Homo sapiens: one gene and its partners. The protein of the gene in region 3 purifies or fractionates together with the protein of the main gene of each other region. This does not show direct contact. Each region holds a gene or a part of one and is shown on either strand. Other genes may lie near its edges.

The links.
Region 1: the proteins of UGT1A10 (region 3) and OLFM2 purify together in Homo sapiens (affinity purification with mass spectrometry; one large-scale study listed by BioGRID and IntAct). This does not show direct contact.
Region 2: the proteins of UGT1A10 (region 3) and EVPL purify together in Homo sapiens (affinity purification with mass spectrometry, with the first as the bait; one large-scale study listed by BioGRID). This does not show direct contact.
Region 4: the proteins of UGT1A10 (region 3) and GUSB purify together in Homo sapiens (affinity purification with mass spectrometry; one large-scale study listed by BioGRID and IntAct). This does not show direct contact.

Annotation. Positions count from the first base shown.
Region 1 is NC_000019.10:9,853,218-9,856,515, forward strand, and holds the end of OLFM2 (noelin-2 isoform 2 precursor), read right to left. Parts: intron 1,647-3,298; coding exon 969-1,646; 3' UTR 501-968; downstream 1-500. UniProt on the Homo sapiens protein: Involved in transforming growth factor beta (TGF-beta)-induced smooth muscle differentiation.
Region 2 is NC_000017.11:76,017,307-76,020,806, forward strand, and holds part of EVPL (envoplakin), read right to left. Parts: intron 2,348-3,500; coding exon 2,222-2,347; intron 1,755-2,221; coding exon 1,608-1,754; intron 1,295-1,607; coding exon 1,140-1,294; intron 953-1,139; coding exon 855-952; coding exon of another isoform or gene 789-854; intron 606-788; coding exon 433-605; intron 1-432. UniProt on the Homo sapiens protein: Component of the cornified envelope of keratinocytes. May link the cornified envelope to desmosomes and intermediate filaments.
Region 3 is NC_000002.12:233,764,517-233,769,796, forward strand, and holds part of UGT1A10 (UDP-glucuronosyltransferase 1A10 precursor), read left to right. Parts: intron 1-2,517; coding exon 2,518-2,649; intron 2,650-3,332; coding exon 3,333-3,420; intron 3,421-3,703; coding exon 3,704-3,923; intron 3,924-5,280. Other genes in the region: UGT1A8 (UDP-glucuronosyltransferase 1A8 precursor), read left to right, coding at 2,518-2,649, 3,333-3,420, 3,704-3,923; UGT1A9 (UDP-glucuronosyltransferase 1A9 precursor), read left to right, coding at 2,518-2,649, 3,333-3,420, 3,704-3,923; UGT1A7 (UDP-glucuronosyltransferase 1A7 precursor), read left to right, coding at 2,518-2,649, 3,333-3,420, 3,704-3,923; UGT1A6 (UDP-glucuronosyltransferase 1A6 isoform 1 precursor), read left to right, coding at 2,518-2,649, 3,333-3,420, 3,704-3,923; UGT1A5 (UDP-glucuronosyltransferase 1A5 precursor), read left to right, coding at 2,518-2,649, 3,333-3,420, 3,704-3,923; UGT1A4 (UDP-glucuronosyltransferase 1A4 precursor), read left to right, coding at 2,518-2,649, 3,333-3,420, 3,704-3,923; UGT1A3 (UDP-glucuronosyltransferase 1A3 precursor), read left to right, coding at 2,518-2,649, 3,333-3,420, 3,704-3,923; UGT1A1 (UDP-glucuronosyltransferase 1A1 precursor), read left to right, coding at 2,518-2,649, 3,333-3,420, 3,704-3,923.
Region 4 is NC_000007.14:65,975,714-65,979,213, forward strand, and holds part of GUSB (beta-glucuronidase isoform 1 precursor), read right to left. Parts: intron 490-3,500; coding exon 302-489; intron 1-301. UniProt on the Homo sapiens protein: Plays an important role in the degradation of dermatan and keratan sulfates.

The DNA of each region.
Region 1 (3,298 bases), on a different chromosome or scaffold from region 3:
GCATGGTGGTGCGTGCCTGTAATCCCAGCTACTCGGAAGGCTCAGGCACGCGAATCGTGTGAACCTGGGAGGTGGAGGTTGCAGTGAGCTGAGATCATGCCACTGCACTCCAGCGTGGGTGACAGAGCAAGACTGTCTCAAAAAAAAAAAAAAGAAAAAAAAAATTCCAGACCTCTTAGTAATGCATCAACAGTGATTGCAGAGTGGCAATCCAGTGACGGGAGAATACTCATTTGAGGCCAGTTTTCATTGCTGTGCTAGAATTCTCGGTTGTTTTGATCAAACTGCTTTTAAACGAATTGCTTTCGATCAAAACAACTTTGGATTGGGTCTCCTCACCCATCTCCCCAAAGGGCTGGCCCTGGGGAACCCCTTCCCCCCAGTTCGCTTAAGCTTGAGTCATGGAATAAGGGGATCCTCACTGGAGATGGGTCTCCAGGCTTGGACTTCGGGGCCACCTCCACCTCTGTCGCCATTGGACACACACAGTCACCGAAGCGTCAAATGTCAAAGGTCCTGTTTATTCCGGCAAACCGGAAAGAAAAAGTGTAAATAAAAAAAGAAACAGATCCATGCACTCAACTCCTGGGGGTGGGGGTGGGGGTGGGAGTGAGGGATGAGGAATGGGTGGGAAGCAAGGAGGGAGGGGTGGAAGGACAGAGAGAGAGAGACAGAGAGAGGCAGAGACGGAAAGAACTGGAGAACCAGAGCCATAAAAAGAAAAAGACATCCATAAAAAGGCAGAAAGAAAGAAGTGGTGTATTAAAAGCAGAGATCAATAAAGGAGAAGAGGGGAAATTGAAAAAATAGACAGAAATACATAGGCAGAGAACAAAAGCCCAGCAAAAAGGCGGGGAGAAAGGGCGTGACAGAGACAGAGAGATCACCCTTGAGGGACACAGGCAGAATGAAAAGGGCCCCCAGCCCCCAGAGGCCCCCCAGGCAGCAGCCCGAGCCACAGCATTGGCTCAGGGGTCCCCAGAGGTGCTGATGACGTGAAACAGGGTGACATTGTAGAGCACCTGGTGGCCGTTGTTCCAGGTATAGAGGGCGCGCTCCCGGGGGTTGTAATCCAGCATCGAGATGTGGGAATACTGGTTGTGGAAGGGCACGTCCGTGTACTCGTAACTGGACGTGTTGGTAAAATAGGCGAAGTAGACCTTGGCCCCAGCCAGGTGGGAGTTGGTCACGTAGAGCACACCGCAGATCATGAAGGCCTCGCCAGCGCTGCGCTTGGGGTAGCCGGTGTCCCAGGACCGCATGACCTCGAGGGTGTGCGGGTCCAGCCGGCTGACCACGATGTTGCCCGCGTTCTGGTTGGTGGTGTACACAGCCCAGAGCCCGCTCTCGTCCACCATGAAGTCCATGTCGGAGAAGCCGCCCCAGGAGTAGGGGAAGGTGTTGTTGTAACCGGCGCCCGGGAGGCTCCTCTGCACCAGCACAGAGCGCGAGCGGAAGTGGTATTTGACCACCACGTTGCTCTGGTACTTGTTATAGAACAGGGAGCCGTTGTACACCACGTGGCCCGTGCCCGCCCACGGCTGGGGCAGCAGGTGCTGGATAAAGTTCTGGCCTTTGATGAAGTCTCCCAGGGTACGGAACTCCAGGACCCGGCGGCCTTTGTAATAGCCATCCATGTACCAGACCTATGGTAGCAGCCGCTGGTCACTGGGGGGAACCACCACCAACGACCCAAGGGTCCCAGCACCAGCTACAGCCATTAGAGTTCAACAGTCACTAAGTGGTCATTAGTCATGGGAACTCTGTTGACCATTCATTACCAATTATGGCCCTAGTGTGACCATGATCATCTCCTGGTGACAGCATTAACCATGGGCAGTGAATTCAAGTGACGTCTTATCACTCAATGGCTGTCCAGTGACCACTAACCACCCAATATCCAATGACCAGGGAATTCCTGGGCCCAGTGAGTCCCCAGGGGCTGCAGTTTCTTGGGGAACTGCATGGCCCCAGTAGGACCCAAATCCCAGTGAGTGCTATTGGTCTTTTTTTTTTTTAAGTAATTTTTTTTTTTTTTTTTGAGATGGAGTCCCTCTCTGTTGCCCAGGCTGGAGTACAGTGGCGTGATCTCAGCTCACTGCAACCTCCGCCTCCCAGGTTCAAGTGATTCTCCTGCCTCAGCCTCCTGAGTAGCTGGGATTACAGGCGCATCCCACCACACCCGGCTAATTTTTGTATTTTTAGTAGAGATGGGGTTTCACCATGTTGGTCAGGCTGGTCTCAAACTCCCGACCTTGTGATCCACTGTCTCAGCCTCCCAAAGTGCTGGGATTACAGGCATGAGCCACCACGCCTGGCCTTTTTTTTTCTTTTGAAACAAAGTCTCACTGTTTTTCCCAGGCTGGCGGGCAGTGGCACAATCACGGCTCACTGCAGCCTCGACCTCCCAGGCTCAAGCAATCCTCTCACCTCAGCCCCCCGGAATAGCAGGGACTACAGGCACAAGTCACCACGCCCAGCTTATTTATTGTATCTTTAGTAGAGACAAGGTCTCGCAATGTTGCCCAGGCTAGTCTCAAACTCCTGAGCTCAAGTGATCTGCCTGCCTCGGCCTCCTAAAGTGCTGGGATTACAGGCGTGAGCCACTGCACCTGGCCACTATTGATCTTAAAACAGACCCTAAGTGGACAATGCTCCATCCCAAAGGACCCAGGGAACTGCAGCCCCTGGGGAGTCACTGGGCCCAGGAATTCCCTGGTCATTGAATATTGGGTGGTTAGTGGTCACTGGACAGCCATTGAATGATAAGACATCACTTGAATTCACTGCCATGGTTAACTAACCCCTGTCACCATGAGGTGACCAGGCGTGTCATCAACATCATTGTTGTCATCATGTTAACTAGCATTTGTTGTTGTTTTTGTTTTGTTTTGTTTTGAGACAGAGTTTCACTCGTGTTGCCCAGGCTGCAGTGCAATGGTGCGATCTTGGCTCACTGCAACCTCTGCCTCCAGGGTTCAAGTGATTCTCCTGCCTCAGCCTCCCGAGTAGCTGGGATTACAGGCATGCACCACCATGTCCGGCTAATTTTGTATTTTTAGTAGAGACAGGGTTTCTCCATGTTGGTCAGGCTGGTCTCGAACTCCCGACCTCAGGTGATCCGCCCACCTCAGCCTCCCAAAGTGCTGGGATTACAGGCATGAGCCACCATGCCCAGCCTCATGGATGGTTCTTGTGTGTCTAAGTGATGGGCAGTCATGACCATGGAAGCTACTAGAAGTCCGAAGGTCACTGAGCAGTGCTTGGTGGAAGAGGTCTCTTGTCCTTGGGAGGGCAT
Region 2 (3,500 bases), on a different chromosome or scaffold from region 3:
GCTGTTCTTGGGTAAGGAGTTTACACAATGCTGCAACCTCCCCAGGTAGGCTCCCCCTTGCAGCCAGGGGACATCTCTTCCTAAGATTCTCCAGGCTTCCTTGCTATTTCAGGAGCTTCACCAGAATACCTCCTGGGGTGTTGACATTGGGCCCTACTGGAACCTTCCTGAATGATCAGGCGAGCTGGGCATTATTACATCTGCTTCAGGGATGAGGAAACCAAGGCCCAGAGAGTTATGTAGTCCAAGATCCTGGAGCTGGTCAGTGGAGGAGCCAGGAGGGGAACCAGCTTGTCTGAGCCCGGGTCTGTCCACACCCTTCTCCATCTCCATCCCAGCCACCGCTCCTGCACTTGCCTCACCTCCCTCAAGTGTGAGCACCAGGGCCGGGCCGCTTCTCATCCCAGCCGCCCCTTCCCGCTGCTCACCCACCTCATGGCTGTGGATGCGGCCCTCCAAGTCCTCCAAGGGTGTGGGGCGGCTCAGCGGGGCCCGCGCCCAGGCCAGCACCTGCCTCTCTATCTGTCCCAGGTCTCCATCCAGCCGGGTCATCTGTGTCAGGAGCTTCTGGGCCTGTGGGTTGGCCAGGTCTGAGCCAGATGGAGCTGGGGGCAGAGGTGCTGGTGAGGGCCCAGGGCCTATCTCCAGACTGCCAGATAGGTGCCCCCACCAGGTGCCCACAGAGGGTCCTGTCGGGGTAGGGTGGAGGGGATGGGCAGGGCCACCCCAGAGATGAAATCCCCAGAGTGATGGTCCCTAACCCAAGGCGACCCCTGCCCATCACAGACCAGTCGGAAGTCGGAATCTACTCCTTCTAGCCCCACAGCCACCTCTCCCCGGGCCACCCTGGGTACCCTGCTGGCTGGGCCGAAGAGACTCCACAGCACTGGCCTTCAGGCGGCTCTGGACTGTGGCCAATTTCTGCTTCAGGGCCTGCAGCTCTGAGGCCAGCCTAGAATGAAGAGGAGATTGAAGAAAGAGGTCCCCACTCTGCCTCTCTCCCTCCCCAGCCCCAGTAGACGCAGCTTCAGGTGAAGGCCAGCCTTTGAGCAGGGGTCTGTTGGGCCATGGGCTTGGACACCGCAGGGCCGGCCTGCTCTGCCCACAGCCTGCCCCTGAGTATCCCTACACAGACCTACCGGGAGGCCCTGGCCACAGCATCAGGGTCTGGTGCTGGGATGCAGAAGCAGGCGGCGGGAGCACGCTTGGTCTCCCCGCCAGGGCCCTGCACGACCCAGGCGTGCGGGTCAGTGTTATCTACCAGCTTATACCGCTCACCCTGCAGCAGCTGCACCTGGGGGCACAGAAAGGGAGCAGCTCCTGAGGGCTCAGGGGCAGGGGGCCAAGGCCAGGGCAGAGTAGGGGCTGGGGACAGAGACAAATGGGGACAGCAGCTGGAACAGGGACAAGAGTAGGGTGGGAGGTGCTGGGGTAGAAAAGAGGCAGGACAGGACTTGGAGAGAGGAGGGTCTGAGTCAAGGGAAGGAGTAGGGCAAAAGTGGGCGCAGGAGACAGCTGGGGATGGAGCAGGGATGGGCTTGGGCAGGGGCAGGGGATGGGTTGGGCGGGGCTGGATGGTGGCAGGGGTGAGGTGGGGGAGTTCGCACTTCTCCTGAGTCCCAGTCGCAGATGCTGTCCACGTGCAGGGGCTGCTGAGGGGGGTTTCTTCGCTGTGGCAGAGGGGCCACATCCCGGCTTCGCCGCTGCAGGTCCCCAGTGGCCCTCTCGGTGACGGCCAGCCGTTTTTCCTCTGCCTGCCGGGGGCCCAGGCAGTGGGGGACTCAGGCCAGGCTGCATTGGAGGCTGGCCACACCATACCTGTCCTTCAAAAGGCCTAGAGGCTGGCCTTCATGAAGGCAGGGGTCTCTAAGTCAGCAAAGTAAAAGGAGCCCCTCTCTGGGGGACCTAGGATCCTGGGATCTGCTAGTTGCAGGGAGGGGGATGGCACAGCATCACCCAGGCCACCAAGCAGAAGCTAGACAGGCCTCAGAGCTCTCCCAGGCTGCCCTTGTCCCACTGCAAATGAGGAAACTGACGTCCAGAAGTGGGAGGAGCTTGCTGGTACCTGGCCAGCCTCCTGCTAGAGTAAACCCCCCTGCCAGCACCCAGGCCAGGGCTTGGGATAGGACTAGGTACCAAGGCAGAAGGGGTGAGGCCCAGAAAAATGGACAGGACCAATTCCCAGAAGTGGGGTGCAGACGGCCTGGTGGGGTTGTCTCACCTCCAGCTGTTGCAGCAGCTCTGTGGGGGCGCCAGGGGGGCCCCCAGGTGCAGGGCTGTACTTGGCATCCAAGTTGGAGTTGAGCTTCGCCAGGGTCTGGCTGACTGAGTCGGCCTCTTCCTGGAACTGAGTTCACTGGGTGGTCAAGGGCAGAGCCTCGTGCAACCTGCTGCCCACTGACCCTACAAACCAGCTGAACCTAAGCCAGCTAAACACAAAGCAGCTAAACCTAAACCAGCTAAACACAAACCAGCTAAACACAAACCAGATAAATGTGAAACAGCTAAACTAAACCAGTAACCGCTAAGCCAGCTAAACCTAAACCAACTAAACACAAATCAGCTAAACCTAAACCAGAAAAACCTAAGCCAGGTAAACCTAAACCAGCTAAACTTAAACCAGCTAAATCTAAACCAGCTAAACACAAACCACCTAAACCGAAACCAGCTAAACCTAAACCAGCCAAACACAAACCAGATAAACCTAAACCAGCTAAACCTAAACCAGCTAAACACAAACCAGATAAACTTAAACCAGATAAACCTAAACCAGCTAAACCTAAACCAGCTAAACACAAACCAGATAAACTTAAACCAGATAAACCTAAACCAGCTAAACACAAACCAGATAAACTTAAACCAGATAAACCTAAACCAGCTAAACTTAAACCAGCTAAACCTAAACTGTCACTCTCCCCTACTCTGGTCGGTCTTTCTTTTTCCTACCCAGGCGGCAGGACCTTTTATCACTGGTGTGCTCTTGCAAATGGGGTCTTATTTGTGCACTGAACTTAATTTTTTTAAGTGGGTCATAAAACACTTGGTCTTCGTCCTTCCTGCACAAATGAAGGGCACCGTCACCTGCCTCCCTCCAGCACCTGAAGTCTTTCTTGCTGGGACAGAGGGTATTGGAGCTGCACTTGTCCCAGCCCCGGAGAAGAAGCTGTGCTTTAAAGAAGCATTCCAGGTGCTTTGACGGAATTTTTGTCAACGTGTGTGATCACAGTCTTGTGGTTCTATAGGAAAATGTATGAAACATTATCTGCCCCCAAATCCCAGTTGCATATTATATCAGGGTTTCTCAACCGTTTTTTTTTTCATTATTATTCTCCTAAAGAGCCTTTTAAGAAATATTTTATTTAATTTCCCCCCACCTCATCCCCATAAAATTTTATTTATTTATTTATTTTGATAGAGATGTATCTATTTGTATAGAGACAGGGTCTTGCTATGTTGCCCAGGCTGGTCTGGAACTACTGGTGTCAAGCAATTCTCCTGGC
Region 3 (5,280 bases):
CACATCCTGCTGATTGCTGAGTGGGCGTGTGGGAGGGTGTGCCTGGAGGAGAACTTAGACTCGGCCTTTTCCAGATGAGCTTCAGTGTAAGAGTGGGTTTCATGAAGAGCAAAGGTCCTAGGAAATTTAAGTAAGCCATTTACCAACGCTCAGAAGAAAGAACTTGAAGAGCACTTGGAAATGAGCTGTGTCTCCCCAAGAAAGAGGGAGAGAAAGAGGGGAGAGATGTGGTGCAGACCCTAGGGAGGAAGGAGTTCAGAAAAACCATCCTCAGGGTGTTCTTGCTACAAACCAAAAAATGCAGCATGGTGGTGGGGAGGATGACTCTGTCCTCCCTGACTTTTAGATGAGCCCAAGGGAAAAGGCAAAGACAAAGCCCTTAAGAGCCAGAGGACTCACGAGGGCCTGGGGCTGGTGAGAGTGGCGGGGAGAGAGGGCTCACCTTGGGAGAAGGATGGTCAGTGTCTGGGGCTTTCCTGGTCATGTTCCAAATCAGGCTTGGCAGGAGTCCTGCTGTGCAAATTGCGTTTGCTGAGCCCTGTCAGAGGTCTCCTGTGTCTCACATCTAGGGTGACCAGCATCCTGGCTTCCTCAGGACTGTTCAGGTTTTAGCACTGAACATCACATGTCCTAGGGAACCCCTCAGTTTGGGCAAGCCCTGCCACATCACACAATCATATTAGTGCCCTCAGTATTCTTTGCAAACATAAAACCATAGACTCAGTAATCCCATTACTGGGTATATACCCAAAGAAATATAAATTATTCTACTATAAAGACACATGCACATATTTGTTTATTGCAGCACTATTCACAATAACAAAGTCATGGAACCAACCCAGATGCCCATCAATGGTAGATTGGATAAAGAAAATGTGGTACATATACACCATGGAATACTATGCAGCCATAACAAGGAATGAGATCATATTCTTTGCAAGGACATGGATGAAGCTGGAAGCCATCATCCTCCACAAACTAACACAGGAACAGAAAATCAAACACCGCATGTTCTCACTCATAAGTGGGAGTTGAACAGTGAGAATGCGTAGACGCAGGGAGGGGAACAACACACACCAGGGCTTGTGGCGGGGTGAGGGGTGAGGGGAGGAACTTAGAGGATAGGTCAATAGGTGCAGCAAACCACCATGGCATATGTATCCCAGAACTTCAAGTAAATAATAATAATAATAATTAATAATAATAATAATAATAAATAAACCCATAAAGCCATTTGAGAGATTCTTGGGGGATTCATTGGACCACTGAAAATCTACAGTGAGAAAAGAATTGCCATGTTGATGAAACAGGAAAACTTTCCTTGTCCCCCTCACAGAGCATGTGACAGCGGGAGGGGCTCACTTTCTCAGTGCGCCACTGCTCAAACCTCTAGGGGAGCATACAGACGGGCAGGTTGTGGGGCTCTGACCTCACCGGCAGTGTCTAGAGGTGGATGTTTACAGCTCCTGAAGCTCCAGTGGGCGTGGGTTATGGCCTTCTTTTAGTTTTGCCCTCTATAGTCAGCTTGTGTTAACCAGCTCAATTACACCCTCTACCTTGTCGCAAGGACAGAGGGCTTTCTGTATCCTGGGGGCTTGCCTTGGTGTACCAGAAGAATCGAATCCCACCTGGGCTTGGAGAATGAGTGCAAGGATTTATTGAGTGGATGTAGCTCTCAGCAGATGGGGGAAGCCAGAAGGGGATGGAATGGGAAGGGTTTCCCCTGGAGTCAGACCGCTCAGTGGCCCGGGCTCGGTGGCCCGGGCTCGGTGGCCTGGGCTCTCCTCCGACTGCCTCAGCCAAACTCCGCGTTGTTCTGCTGGTCAGTGGCCTGCCGGTGCCTGTTGGTGAGTTCTTCTCAATGTCCAGCTGTCCTTGCGTCCCTCCGCTGATGTGCTCCTCCCGATGTCCAGCTACCTGTGTGTCTGCCTGCTAGGGTCTTGGGGTTTTTATAGGCACATGATGGGGGCGTGGCAGGCCAGGGTGGTTTTGGGAAATGAAACATTTAGGCAGGAAAACAAAAATGCCTGTCCTCACCTAGGTCCATGGGCACAGGTCTGGGGGTGGAGCCCTCGCCAGGGACCACACCCTCTTCTACCCAGCACTTCCCTTCCCTACTTCCATATCATTTAAAGGGACCACGCCCTTCCCAGCTCTTCCCTTCTGTATCACTGATGCCTTGCTCTGTGTTCTCTAAGTGGAATTATCACTGTGTGTATGTACAGGTGTGTGCATGTGTGTGCATGTACCTGTGCTTTTCTTTTGGAAAACTAGCACATTACCTGGATTTTGCATCTCAAGGATAATTCTGTAAGCAGGAACCCTTCCTCCTTTAGAAGGAAGTAAAGGAGAGGAAAATGCTGTAAAACTTACATATTAATAATTTTTTACTCTATCTCAAACACGCATGCCTTTAATCATAGTCTTAAGAGGAAGATATCTAATTCATAACTTACTGTATGTAGTCATCAAAGAATATGAGAAAAAATTAACTGAAAATTTTTCTTCTGGCTCTAGGAATTTGAAGCCTACATTAATGCTTCTGGAGAACATGGAATTGTGGTTTTCTCTTTGGGATCAATGGTCTCAGAAATTCCAGAGAAGAAAGCTATGGCAATTGCTGATGCTTTGGGCAAAATCCCTCAGACAGTAAGAAGATTCTATACCATGGCCTCATATCTATTTTCACAGGAGCGCTAATCCCAGACTTCCAGCTTCCAGATTAATTCTCTTAATTGGAACCTTAGATTTGGCTTTTCCCTGCCACTTCCCAACTATTAATCCAAAGGTTTTTTTTGTTGTTGTGGTTGTTGTCATTGTTTTCAATTTGACTCTCAAATACTCTATTAAACTATGATCCACCACACTCAGAAGTATCATTTTCTCTAAGAGACTCAAAAGTGTATTAGGGAGAATTTATTTAAAAATAAAATAAATGGGATATTGTTTCTTCATATTAAATAGAAGTATTTCTCCAAAAAGCTGTTGGTTAGAACACTGAATTTATGTCTTACATTTCTGCTCTTATAGTTCTGCATCCACTTGTTTCATTAAGCAAACTTTCCCTTAAAGTGCAGGAAAGTGAAAAAATCCTAAGTGCACAGCTTGATAAATTATCACAAATTCACGTAGTGCATACACCCTTGTAACTAAACCTCCAAAACAAGATGCCGGAAGTTGCCAGTCCTCAGAAGCCTTCACAGTTACTGATCCTCCCACTCTGTTAAAGACTGTTCCTTCAGAGGACCCCTGTTTTCTAGTTAGTATAGCAGATTTGTTTTCTAATCATATTATGTTCTTTCTTTACGTTCTGCTCTTTTTGCCCCTCCCAGGTCCTGTGGCGGTACACTGGAACCCGACCATCGAATCTTGCGAACAACACGATACTTGTTAAGTGGCTACCCCAAAACGATCTGCTTGGTATGTTGGGCGGATTGGATGTATAGGTCAAACCAGGGTCAAATTAAGAAAATGGCTTAAGCACAGCTATTCTAAAGGATTGTTGAGCTTGAAAATATTATGGCCAACATATCCTACATTGCTTTTTATCTAGTGGGGTATCTCAACCCACATTTTCTTCTGCAAATTTCTGCAAGGGCATGTGAGTAACACTGAGTCTTTGGAGTGTTTTCAGAACCTAGATGTGTCCAGCTGTGAAACTCAGAGATGTAACTGCTGACATCCTCCCTATTTTGCATCTCAGGTCACCCGATGACCCGTGCCTTTATCACCCATGCTGGTTCCCATGGTGTTTATGAAAGCATATGCAATGGCGTTCCCATGGTGATGATGCCCTTGTTTGGTGATCAGATGGACAATGCAAAGCGCATGGAGACTAAGGGAGCTGGAGTGACCCTGAATGTTCTGGAAATGACTTCTGAAGATTTAGAAAATGCTCTAAAAGCAGTCATCAATGACAAAAGGTAAGAAAGAAGATACAGAAGAATACTTTGGTCATGGCATTCATGATAAAATTGTTTCAAATATGAAAACATTTACGTAGCATTTAATAGCGTTGTTTCAAATATAAAAACAAATACATAAAAATCTGGATTTTTATTTCTTCTTTTTTTTTTTTTTTTTTTTTTGAGATGGAGTCTTGCTCTGTCACCTAGGCTGGAGTGCAGTGGTGCAATCTTGGCTTACTGCAACCTCCACCTCCCACGTTCAAGCAGTTCTGCCTCAGCCTCCGTGTAGCTGGGATTACAGGTGTCCACCACCACGCCCGGTTAATTTTTGTATTTTTTAGTAGAGAAAGGGTTTCACCATGTTTGTCAGGCTGGTCTTGAACTCCTGACTTCAGGTGATCCACCTGCCTCGGCCTGCCAAAGTGCTGAGATTACAGGCATGAGCCAGCGCGTCTGACCTGGATTTATAAATAAGATAATTTAGAGGTTATTATTCACTTTATAAAAGGATTCTTTAGTTTCTATATAATTTATCATATAATTTATTTAGAATTTTATTTCCCCCATTAGATTTAAAACTCCAATTTACATAAAAAGTTGCCATAATAGACATCTGATCCATAAGTTTCCTGCACAGAAAGAAATACTCCATTATAAGAAGCATAGTATCTTTAAGAGAAAAACAACTCAAATGCTTAGAAGTACAGCTTTTTGCAGCACTGGAACCTGTGAGAAATTTTGTCCATGGAGTTTATGAATGAAGGAGCTATAAGATATCACAGACAAAGTCTTAGAATAAGAGCAAAGGAAAATTTGCTCAAATGTGGCCCTGAAAACGATTCAAAGGGCAAATGATTTCTGGATTAAAGTTAGTATATTACTGTCAAGCTCACTGGTAATAGGCTTATTAGAACCTTATGGGAAGAAGTGGTGGCCAGTGGTAGATTTCATCCGACAATAGATACTGTGTGCATATGTGCGTGTGCGTTTGTGCATGTGGCTGTGCTCATGTGTGGGTGCACACGTGTGCATTCATATGCGTGTGTGTGTGTGTGCGTGTGTTTATGAGAGTGTCCATTGCTTTCTCCCATGGTTACCTCCTTTAGAAAGAAGCAGCAGTCAGGAAGACAGATGTGAAGAGCTGGAGCATGTTCAGATGAGAGGAGACGGAACACGGGGACACACCAGCTTGAGCAAGGGACAACAGGGGAGGACTGATGACTGACTTCCCACCTTTGAGGTGCTAATGTGTGTGTGGTGGCACTGGATAAAAGATCAATGTTGGCTAGGCACCATGGCACACGCCTGTAGTCCCAGCCACTCTGGAGGCTAAGGCGGGAGGATTGCTTGAGCCCAGAAGTTGGAGGCTGCT
Region 4 (3,500 bases), on a different chromosome or scaffold from region 3:
GGTGGCATGTGCCTGTAGTCCCAGCTACTCAGGAGGCCAAGGCAGGAGGACTGCTGCAGGCTGAGAGTTCAAGGCTGCAGTGAGCTGTGATCAGGCCATTGCACTCCAGCCTGGGTGACAGAGTGAGACCATCTCAAAAAAAAAAAAAAAAAAGAAAATGGGCCTCCCACCAAGGGTGAGAAACATCAGAAAGCTCAGAGGACCATGCCTGCCCATCCACCTGTCTTGGGCTCCTGCTGAAGCCAGGGTCACCACATGGGGGCAAAAGACCTCCCTTAGGCATGTCCCAAACCACCATTACCTCCAATGAATACAGATAGGCAGGGCGTTCGTGCATCAGGTACGGCCACCAGAGGCTGACACCTGGCACCTTAAGTTGGCCCTGGGTCCCAGTCCCATTCGCCACGACTTTGTTTTCTGCATCCAAAAGACGCACTTCCAACTTGAACAGGTTACTGCCCTTGACAGAGATCTGGTAATTCACCAGCCCTGCAAGAAACAAGAGAGACCAGGGCTGAGGGAGGGACACGACCTGAGTCACACAAACAGGAGCGCCCTGCAGCCACCGCTGCCAGGCAGCCATTTGTTTCTGTTGCTTTTTTTAAATTTAATTTCTTATTTTTTTTTTTTGAGACGGAGTCTCACTCTGTCCCCCAGGCTGGAGTGCAGTGGCATGATCTCGGCTCACTGCAACCTCCACCTCTGGGGTTCAGGTGATTCTCCTGTCTCAGCCTCCCAAGTACCTGGGATTATAGACGTGCACCACCATGCTTGGCGAATTTTTATATTTTTAGTAGAGATGGGTTTTGTCATATTGGCCAGGCTGGTCTTGAACCCCTGACCTCAGGTGATCCACCCGCCTTGGCCTCCCAAAGTGCTGGGATTACAGGTGTGAGCCACCGCACCCGGTGCTTTTTTTAATTTAAAAAAAGATTTTGGCCAGGTGCAGTGGTCACACCTGTAATCCCAACACTTGAGGAGGCTGGGGTGGGAGGATCGCTTGAGACCAGGAGTTCAAGACCAGCCTGGGTAACATAGGGAAACCACTTCTTCCCTAAAAATACAAACAATCAGCCGGTCGTGGTGGTGCGTGCTTGCAGCCCCGGCAGCCCCAGCTACTTGGGAGGCTGAAGTGGGAGGATTGCTTGAGCCAGGAGTTCGGGGCTGCAGTGAGCTATGATCTTGAGGCAGGATAGGTAGTCAAGGAAGTGACCGTGTCCCTCAGACATGCCAACCACGGCACTGAGACACGTGACGTGTGAACAAGCATGTACAGCTACTACGCATGTGCAACCAGAGGACGGCCCAGAACGTGCTTACAGTAACACCTCTTCCCAGCTCCTTAGGAATTCATCACGGAAGACTCCCAGAAAGGGAGTTTCCCCAGTAATAATCGGTGCTGTCTCATCCTTACGAGCAGCCTGTCCTGAATTCTGTGTCTCAGGGTGAACTGTGCATTTTGCACTTCACTATTTTTTTTGAGATGGGGGTGTCACTCTGTCACCTAGGCTGGAGTGCAGTGTTGCAATCTCAGCTGACTGCAACCTCCACCTCCCGGGTTCAAACAATTCTCCCATCTCAACCTCCTGAGTAGCCGGGATTGCAGGCTCACACCACAATGTCCAGCTAATGTTGGCTAAGCTGGTTTGAACTTCTGAGCTCAAGTGATCCACCCATCTCGGCCTCCAAAAGTGCTGGGATTACAGGCATGAGCCAGTGCACCCAGGCTGTTCTAAACTTAACTTCCAAAATACCTTTCCTTGGCAATAAATTGCTCTATGGTGCATTGTCTTTGCTGTGGGATTCTTTTTTAAATTCTTTTTTATTCATTTATTTTATTTTATTTATTTATTTTTTTCTTAGATAGGGTCTCAGTATGTTGCCCAGGCTGGTCTCAAACTTTGCAGCTAAAGCGATCCATCCACCTTGGACTCCCAAAGTGCTGGGATGACAGGCATTAGCCACCACACCCAGCCTAAATTCTTTTAAACTTAGAACCGCGGCCCCACAACGGCTGTCAATAATCTCACCACTGCACTCCAGCCTGGGCCACAGTGCAAGCCTCATCTCAGAAAAAGAAAAAGATATATATATATTTTTTTATTTTTATTTTTTGACATGGAGTCTCGCTCTGTCCCCTAGGCTGGAGTGCAGTGATGCAATCTCAGCTCACTGCAAGCTCTGCCTCCCAGGTTCACGCCATTCTCCTGCCTCAGCCTCCCGAGTCGCTGGGACTACAGGCCCCTGCCACCATGCCCGGCTAATTTTTTGCATTTTTAGTAGAGACGGAGTTTCACCATGTTAGTCAGGATGGTCGCGATCTCCTGACCTCGTGATCCCCCCACCTTGGCCTCCCAAAGTGCTGGGATTACAGGCATGAGCCACCGCGCCCGCCCTGAAAAAGATATATTTTTAAAAAGAAAAAAAACTTAAAACAAAAATTTTTCTTAAATACAGACCGAGCGCTGTGGCTCATTCCTGTAATCCCAGCATTTTGGGAGACTGAGGCGGGTGGATCCCGAAGTCAGGAGTTGAACCAGCCTGGCCAACATGGTGAAACCCCATCTCTACTAAAAATACAAAAATTAGCTGGACGTGGTGGCACACGCCTGTAATCCCAGCTGCTCAGGAGGCTGAGGCAAGAGAATTGTTTGAACCCGGGAGGCGGAGGTTGCAGTGAGCCAAGAACACGCCACAGCACTCCAGCCTGGACAACAGAGCAAGACTCCATCTCAAAAACAAAAAACAAAAACAAAAAAAACAGGGTATCCCAGCTGGGCACAGTGGCTCACGCCTGTAACCCTTGCATTTTGGCAGGCCGAGGAGGGTGGATCACCTGAGGTTAGGAGTTCAAGACCAGTCAGGCCAATAGAGTGAAACCCTGTCTCTACTAAAAAAAAATAGAAAAATTAGCCGGGCGTGGTGGCGGGTGCCTATAATCCCAGTTACTCGGGAGGCTGAGGCAGGAGAATCGCTTGAACCCGGGAGGCAGAGGTTGCAGTGAGCCAAGATCACGCCATCGCACTCCAGCCTGGCGACAGAGCGAGACTCCAGCTCAAAAAAAAAAAAGAAGAAAAAAAGAAAGACAGGGTCTGCGTCTGTTGCCCAGACCAGAGTGCAGTGGTGTGGTCATAGCTCACTGCACCCTTGACATCCCAGGCTCAAGTGATTCTCCTGCCTCAGCAGCTGGGACTACCGGCACACATCACCATCCCTGGCTAATTTTTTAATTTTTTGTGGTGATGGCCTCACTATGTTGCCCAGGCTGCTCTTGAACTACTGGCCTCAAGTGATCCTTATACCAGGGCCTCCTTGCAAAGTGCTGGATGACAGGCATAAGCCACCATGCCCGGCGCCCCCCCCACCGAAGCTGCCTGTTCCTTGAGCACGATGTGTAGCAAGGGGAGATGGAGTGAGAGTAGCACCATAGAGAAGGGACAGGATTGCCACCCCGAGCTGTGTGACGTTAGGCCAGACCCCTCTTCTCCTAGCGAGGTCAA